Linked DNA regions of Homo sapiens. The protein of the gene in region 1 interacts with the protein of each later gene in a biochemical or structural test. Each region holds a gene or a part of one and is shown in the gene's direction. Other genes may lie near its edges. The genes, in order: RBM25 and CYLD.

The links.
Region 2: the proteins of RBM25 (region 1) and CYLD interact in a test that uses a peptide from one of them, tested with the Homo sapiens proteins (one large-scale study listed by IntAct).

What each region holds. Positions count from the first base shown.
Region 1 is NC_000014.9:73,061,303-73,065,128, forward strand, and holds part of RBM25 (RNA-binding protein 25), read left to right. Parts: intron 1-3,669; exon of another isoform or gene 3,670-3,791; intron 3,792-3,826. UniProt on the Homo sapiens protein: RNA-binding protein that acts as a regulator of alternative pre-mRNA splicing. Involved in apoptotic cell death through the regulation of the apoptotic factor BCL2L1 isoform expression.
Region 2 is NC_000016.10:50,748,517-50,752,342, forward strand, and holds part of CYLD (ubiquitin carboxyl-terminal hydrolase CYLD), read left to right. Parts: intron 1-1,032; exon of another isoform or gene 1,033-1,059; 5' UTR 1,060-1,182; coding exon 1,183-1,686; intron 1,687-3,087; coding exon 3,088-3,390; intron 3,391-3,826. UniProt on the Homo sapiens protein: Deubiquitinase that specifically cleaves 'Lys-63'- and linear 'Met-1'-linked polyubiquitin chains and is involved in NF-kappa-B activation and TNF-alpha-induced necroptosis.

The sequences.
Region 1 (3,826 bases):
CCCGCCTTGGCCTCCCAAAGTGTTGGGATTGCGTGAGCCACCGCACTTGGCCAATATGCCTTTTTTAAAATGGCAGCTATATGAACTATATTGACATAGAAAATTCACCTGTAAGTGCACAATTCAATGATTTTTGGTAAATATACAAAGTTATGCATCCATTACCCCAAAAGGATTCCTTCTGTCTGTTTGCAAGTCACCCTGTTCCACCCCAGTTTCAGGCAAGCCCTCATTTTTCTGTATAGATAGTAGTAGATAGCGCTGCTTTTTTGTTTTATTTGGTTTTTGAGATGGGGTCTCTTTCACCCAGGTGGAGGGCAGTGCTGCGATCTTGGCTCACTGCAACTTCCGCATTTCAGGCTTAAGCAATCCTCCCACCCCAGCCTCCCAAGTAGCTGGGACCACAGGTGCACGCCACCATGCCTGGCTATTTTTTTGTATTTTTGGTAGAGATGGGGTTTCACCATGTTGCCCAGGCGGGTCTGGAACTCAGGCTCAAAGGATCCACCTGCCTCGTCCTCCCAAAGTGCTGGGATTACAGGTATGAGCCACTGTGCCCAGCCTTGTTTTTGTTTTTAAAAAGATGAATTCTTCCTGTGTTGCTCAGGCTGGAGTGCAGTGGCTATTCACAGGCGTAATCCCACTATTGATCAGTTTGGGAGTTTTGCCCTTCTCTGTTGGCAACCTGGTGGTTCTCTCTCATCCCAGGAGGTCACCATATTAATGCTGAATGGACTTAGCATGAACACCTGATCAGTAGCGTGCTGCAGCCCAGAACTCCAGGGCTCAAGTGATCCTCCTGCGTAGCTGTGACTATAGGCAGGCACAGGAGTGTTGCTCTTTAATCATTGAAAATGGTAAAACAACAAAAGTGGCAATGTCAGAAAAAGATCAACTCTTTTTTGGAGATTTCCAAACAATTGAGTATTTTCATACTTCTGAAAAGCTTTGCTGTAAAAGTAGTTTTTCTGTTAAGCATTTCCCATTCTTCTTTGGGCATAAAACACTTTTTTTTTTCTAGGAATAATTCCTGCAGACCTGACACATAATTGGAAGTAGATATTGAATGAATGAGTGAGTTGTATGTGAATATTTGCTCAGAGGAATCTCAGTTCATTATCATTTCAGAAATTTGGCACGTAGTGTACTGATGGAGCTAGTCTAAAATAATCTATCCTGGGAGAAATAATTTTGTTTCTATCTGGATAAGTCTACAATAGAGGAATGCTTATTAGCAGTGTTTTGCTGTATTTTGCATACTTGCAGTATTCTTAAGAGTGCAGAAAAAAATAGTTTGAAAGATTCAAAGAGAAAAAAGTGAAAAAAGAAAAGCTGAGTGCATGCATATGTTGAGTACTAGAGATATGTCTTCAGGGTTTCTTTTTGGACCAGATTTCTTGAGATAAAATTTGCATACAATAAAATGCATCTGTTTTAATTTCAATGAGTTTAGACAAATGCATATACTTGTGTGACCACCGCTACACTAGAGGTAGGGAACCCTTCTATCATAGGTTTCTGTTATTTTATTTAATTTTTGGGGGGCCTCACTCTGTCGCCCAGGCTTGAGTGCAGTGGTGTGAGCTCGGCTCATTGCAACCTCCACCTCCCGGGCTCAAGCGATTCTCCCATCTCAGCCTCCTGAGTATCTGGGACCACAGGTGCATGCTACCACACCTGGCTAATTTTTTGTATTTTTGGTAGAGATGGGGTTTCACCATGTCGCCCAGGCTGGTCTTGAACTCCTGAGCTCAAGTGATCTGCATGCCTTGGCCTCCCAAAACGCCGGGATTACAGGTATGAGCCACTGCACCTGGCCCAGGTTCCTGTTTTTATTATCGTGGGCTATAGAGTTTCTTTTTTTTGAGATGGAGTCTGGCTCTGTCGCCCAGGCTGGAGTGCAGTGGCACAATCTCTGCTCACTGCAAGCTCCGCCTCCCGGGTTCACGCCATTCTCCTGCCTCAGCCTCCCGAGTAGCTGGGACTACAGGCGCCTGCCACTATGCCCGGCTAAATTTTTGTATTTTTAGTAGAGACGAGATTTCACTGTGTTAGCCAGGATGGTCTCGATCTCCTGACTTCGTGATCCACCCACCTCGGCCTCCCAAAGTGCTGGGATTACAGGCTTGAGCCACCGCGCCCGGCCCGGAGTTTCATACTTAGCAGGAAAAGGTGCTTTGAACCTTCTAAAATGTGAGGTACTTTCAATATTTTAAAAAATGCTATGGAAATGATTTCAGTGCCATAAGATAACTCTGCATTTCTCTCTTTTAAATCCCACATATTATACAATCCCTCAGCAAATCCTATTGGCTGCCTTCAAAATATATCCAGGATCCAACAACTTGATAGCACTTTCACCACTACCACCTGTTCCAGGCCACCATCTCTCCAGGCTACCATCTCTTATATGGATTATTGTACCAGTCTCTTGCTTGTATCCTGTTCCCTTCCAGGCTTAACACAGTGGCCAGTGATACTGTTAAAATGTGACAAGTCAGAAACTCTTCAAATGATTTTCACCTCATTCAGAGTTAAAACTAAAATGTTTATTTACATTGTGTTACATAGCCCTACACTCTACTCATAATACTCAGTATTTATTTCTGATTTTCTTCATTTATTCTGCTCCAGTCATACTGTTGGCCTTGCTATTCCTCCCTCAAATACACCATTCCTGCTTCAGCCTCTTTGTATTTGTCTTTTCCTTTGCTTGGAAGTCTCTTTCCCCCAGATATGAATAGGGCTTCCTGCCTCTGCCTCTTTTAAATCTTTGTTCTAATCTTCACCTTCTTGGTGAGGCCTAATCGCTGTATTTAAAATAAACTACTCCATAGCTCTCTTCCCTAATTTATTTTTCTACAAAGTACATACCATCTTTCAATGTATTATAATTTATTTTGTTTATCATCTATAGGTAACAGATAAGCTTTGCTTATGATTATGAAAGTTAATTCTCAATCAGTTTCACATGGCAAAACACATAAACCTGTGTTGAAATAAGTAGTTGGTAATCTTTTAGGCTGCTTAAAGTGGACATTAGTATTTATCAAAGATGAGAAATGTTTTCTGATTTTCCATGAGAGACCAATCTTTTTTATTTTTGTTTTGAAATGGAGTCTCGCTCTGTCACCCAGGTTGGAGTGCAGTGGCGCGGTCCCAGCTCACTGCAACCTCTGCCTCCCAGGTTTAAGCAATTCTCCTGCCTCAGTCTCCCGAGTAGCTGGGACTACGGGCGCCTACCACCATTCCTGGCTAATTTTTGTATTTTTAATAGAGACGGGCTTTCACCATGTTGGCCAGTCTGGCCTCGAACTCCTGACCTTGTGATCCGCCCGCCTCAGCCTCCCAAAGTGCTGGGATTACAGATGTGAGCCACCGCGCCCAGGAGAGGCCAGTTATCTTAAAGGAATATCCATAAAAATTAGCTGTTAACTGGTATTTTTGCCTTCACCTTTGAAGTCCAGCCTATCAACAAGCAAGTTTTGGCAGCTCCAAATAAAGGGGAATATGTTATGGAAAAATTTGAAGTGAATGGAATGGGTATATTGGCATAAACGAAAATTAAATATATCTGGTTAACTCTGCAGAATGAATTACACATTTAAAAACCATAAAATATAACTTAAATACCAAGAATATAGAGTTTTACTTTTTTTTTTTTTTTAGACGGAGTCTTACTCTGTCGTTCAGGTTGGAGTGCAGTGGCGCGACCTCGGCTCACTGCAACATCTGCCTCCCAGGTTCAAGCAATTCTCCTGCCTCACCTTCCAGAGTAGCTGGGATTACAGGTGCGCACCACCACACCTGGCTAATTTTGTTTGTT
Region 2 (3,826 bases), on another chromosome or scaffold:
AAGCCTGGGTGACAGAGCGAGACCCTGTCTTAAAAATAAATAAATAAAATAAAAATAAATGAAAATTTGAAAAAGAAATAATAGAAAGAAATTATAATGCAGTTATATCATGATATTCCCTTGCTATGTAGTACAAGTTTTGATGCTACAAAATTGATTTTTAAAATATTTTTAATATAGTCATATTATAATATCTGATATTTGCGATTTGAGAAATCAGATAACTATGATTAATGTGATGAACATTGCCCATCTTCAGAAAAAATATATGAAATGAAGTTGAGTCAGAGGTAAAATGTTCCATTATCACAATATGGCCATATCATAGCTATCATTTATAGGCATGAGCCACACAGCTCAGCCCGAAACGCTACTTTTAAAAGTTTATTAGTGTCAGAATATGGGACAGGCCTGGTGGCTTACGACTGTAATCCCAGTGCGTTGGGAGGCCAAGACAGGAGGATTGTTTGAGCCCAGGAGTTCAAGACCAGCTTAGGCAACATAGTGAGACCCTGTCTCTACAAAAAATAGAAAGCTTAGCTGTGTGTGGTGATATGCGTCTATAATACCAGTTACTCGGGAGGCTGAGGTAGGAGGATCACTTGAGCCTGGAAGGTCTTGGCCACAGTGAACTGTGATTGTGCCACTGCAGTCCAGCATGGGCAACAAGAGTGAGACCCTGTCTCAAAACAAATAAATAAAAATAAATTAAAAAAAGTTAGAATATGTATATAAGGGTAATCTTTAAAAGTTTTTACTAGAATCTGATTTTATAAATTTCAGTGTCTTGGAAGCAAACATTGTGTTGTCTTTGAAAGTACTTTACAATTGGATTTCATTAATTAAATATGCACAGTTACAGTAGATAAAAGTAATACAGTATGTATGTCTTTTAGCCCTTTTAGATATTTTTTGAAAATATTTCATTTGTGTGTATGTGTTTACTGGTCAAATGAAAATTTTAAAAGTCTTCAGTCTTAATTTTCAGTCATGTAGAATGAAGTCTAAAGTTTATTTTTGCTTTTTCACTAGGCATTTTGATTTCCTTTCTTTTTACAGCATGGACACCACGTTGCTGAAAACATGCTTTGGGACTGCCACTGAATTTATCTTTTGCGGTTTTATGACAAAGTTATTAGTAGTTTCCCTTTTTTGAATTAGTATTTTGAAGTTAATATCACAATGAGTTCAGGCTTATGGAGCCAAGAAAAAGTCACTTCACCCTACTGGGAAGAGCGGATTTTTTACTTGCTTCTTCAAGAATGCAGCGTTACAGACAAACAAACACAAAAGCTCCTTAAAGTACCGAAGGGAAGTATAGGACAGTATATTCAAGATCGTTCTGTGGGGCATTCAAGGATTCCTTCTGCAAAAGGCAAGAAAAATCAGATTGGATTAAAAATTCTAGAGCAACCTCATGCAGTTCTCTTTGTTGATGAAAAGGATGTTGTAGAGATAAATGAAAAGTTCACAGAGTTACTTTTGGCAATTACCAATTGTGAGGAGAGGTTCAGCCTGTTTAAAAACAGAAACAGACTAAGTAAAGGCCTCCAAATAGACGTGGGCTGTCCTGTGAAAGTACAGCTGAGATCTGGGGAAGAAAAATTTCCTGGAGTTGTACGCTTCAGAGGACCCCTGTTAGCAGAGAGGACAGTCTCCGGAATATTCTTTGGAGTTGAATTGCTGGTAAGTTTGATAAACCATTTTAGTAGTGTGTTTGTTTGTGTTCATGTGTGTCTGTGTATTTGTATGCACATACATATTTTTCTCCTTAAATACGAAATAAATTTTCCCAAGAGTCTTCTGTAATTTTTAATATTCATCATCCTTGCTGATGAATCCATGTTGTGGTTGAATCCATAATCCAAAACTTGCTTATAGTTGTCACTGATAATATGTGTGAAAATCACCTTGGCGTTTATTTCTGTTGGAAAGAGACCCAAGAACTCTGTGATATGTTTCCAAGCTTAATATTCATTCTTGAGAACTTAAATGTCAATTATATTTTGACATTCTTGCAAATAGAATTGTATGCCTTCTTTGCTTCTTGATTTAATTTCTTTTGTTTACTTTTTAATGATGAATTGCGAAGATGTAAAGATGATGTCGAAACTTAAAAAACTATGTACTATGGTAGGAACATACAAAGAGATTCACCTGGCTATTGCAGACATATATATTTTAGAAATTTTAACATTGCCTGTATTAAACATGAACGCTACCAGTTGTAAATAGTTACATAAAAAATTGTTAATTACCTTGCGTTATCATCTATAGGTTTCTTAGTTCTTCTTAATGTATGTTATTAAATAACAATTTAGATATAAGATTTTTGAAAAAAAAGTTGCAGAAATTTAAACTTGCTTATAATTGTCCCCGATAATATATGTGAAAATCCTTAGAATTTATTTCTACCGGAAGGAGACCCAAGAATGCTGTGATATGTTTCCAAACTTAATATTCATTCACAAGAACTGAAATGCCAATTACATTTTGACACTCTTGCCAATAGAATTGCATGTCTTCTTTGCTTCTTGATTTAATTTTTTTTAAAAGCAGTGATTGTAAACAATTAGGAATTTGAATCCCAGTTAAGCCATTTACTAGCTGGGTTGCCAGGTTACTTAACAAAGCTACTTAACTTCTCTCATTCTGCATCCTTACCTGTACAATGGTGTTAATAGTACATGACTTGTAGTGTTTTTGTGGTACATTGATGCAGGATTTAAGCACAGTGACTGACAATAAGTGCTTAATGAATGGAGCTAACATTACTGCTATTTTAAAGTAACATTTTCTTTTTATAACCAAATTAATGTTAGAATCACAACGTGGAATTCAGCCTAGCTTTCTCATGATAGAGTTATGAATTGAAATTATCAGATAATATTATTTCAGCATCAGATACAACTTCTTATTTTTTAAAACACTCTAAATCCAACAGAAACTGCTAATAATTGTATTTCTTATTATATGTATCATTTAGAAATTTTCCAGAGTGATTTTCCTGAAATCCCTAGAGTGAACCCCTTTTCCTATGGATCGTCTTTCTATATCTATTTCTTTCCCTTCTCTCTTAAAAACTAGGAAGAAGGTCGTGGTCAAGGTTTCACTGACGGGGTGTACCAAGGGAAACAGCTTTTTCAGTGTGATGAAGATTGTGGCGTGTTTGTTGCATTGGACAAGCTAGAACTCATAGAAGATGATGACACTGCATTGGAAAGTGATTACGCAGGTCCTGGGGACACAATGCAGGTCGAACTTCCTCCTTTGGAAATAAACTCCAGAGTTTCTTTGAAGGTTGGAGAAACAATAGAATCTGGAACAGTTATATTCTGTGATGTTTTGCCAGGAAAAGAAAGCTTAGGATATTTTGTTGGTGTGGACATGGTAAGAAAATTTTGGATTAAATATCTTTGTGATATATATATTAGTTTATATATATATGTATATATATATATAAACATATATATACACACATATATATACACACATATATATGTATAGTTTATATATATATGTATTAGTTTTAGGACCAATTTACTTGCAAATTGAACACTTTGAATATTTAACATGATCTAATTTGGAGTACTTTAAAGAACATGTTCTAATTTATCTTTGGTAAAGGAGCATTGAAATAGAACAGGGGTCTAGATACAGATTACATTTACTTTTTTTTCCCATTTGAATAAACTAGAATAATGTTCTCTATCTTTAAATTTGCCTTATTGTAGCTGACCAGTAGACAAAACAAAACAAGACAAAACACAATTATATTACTTGAAGTCCTATTTTTCTTTATTTTGAAACAGTTTTTTGGGGTACT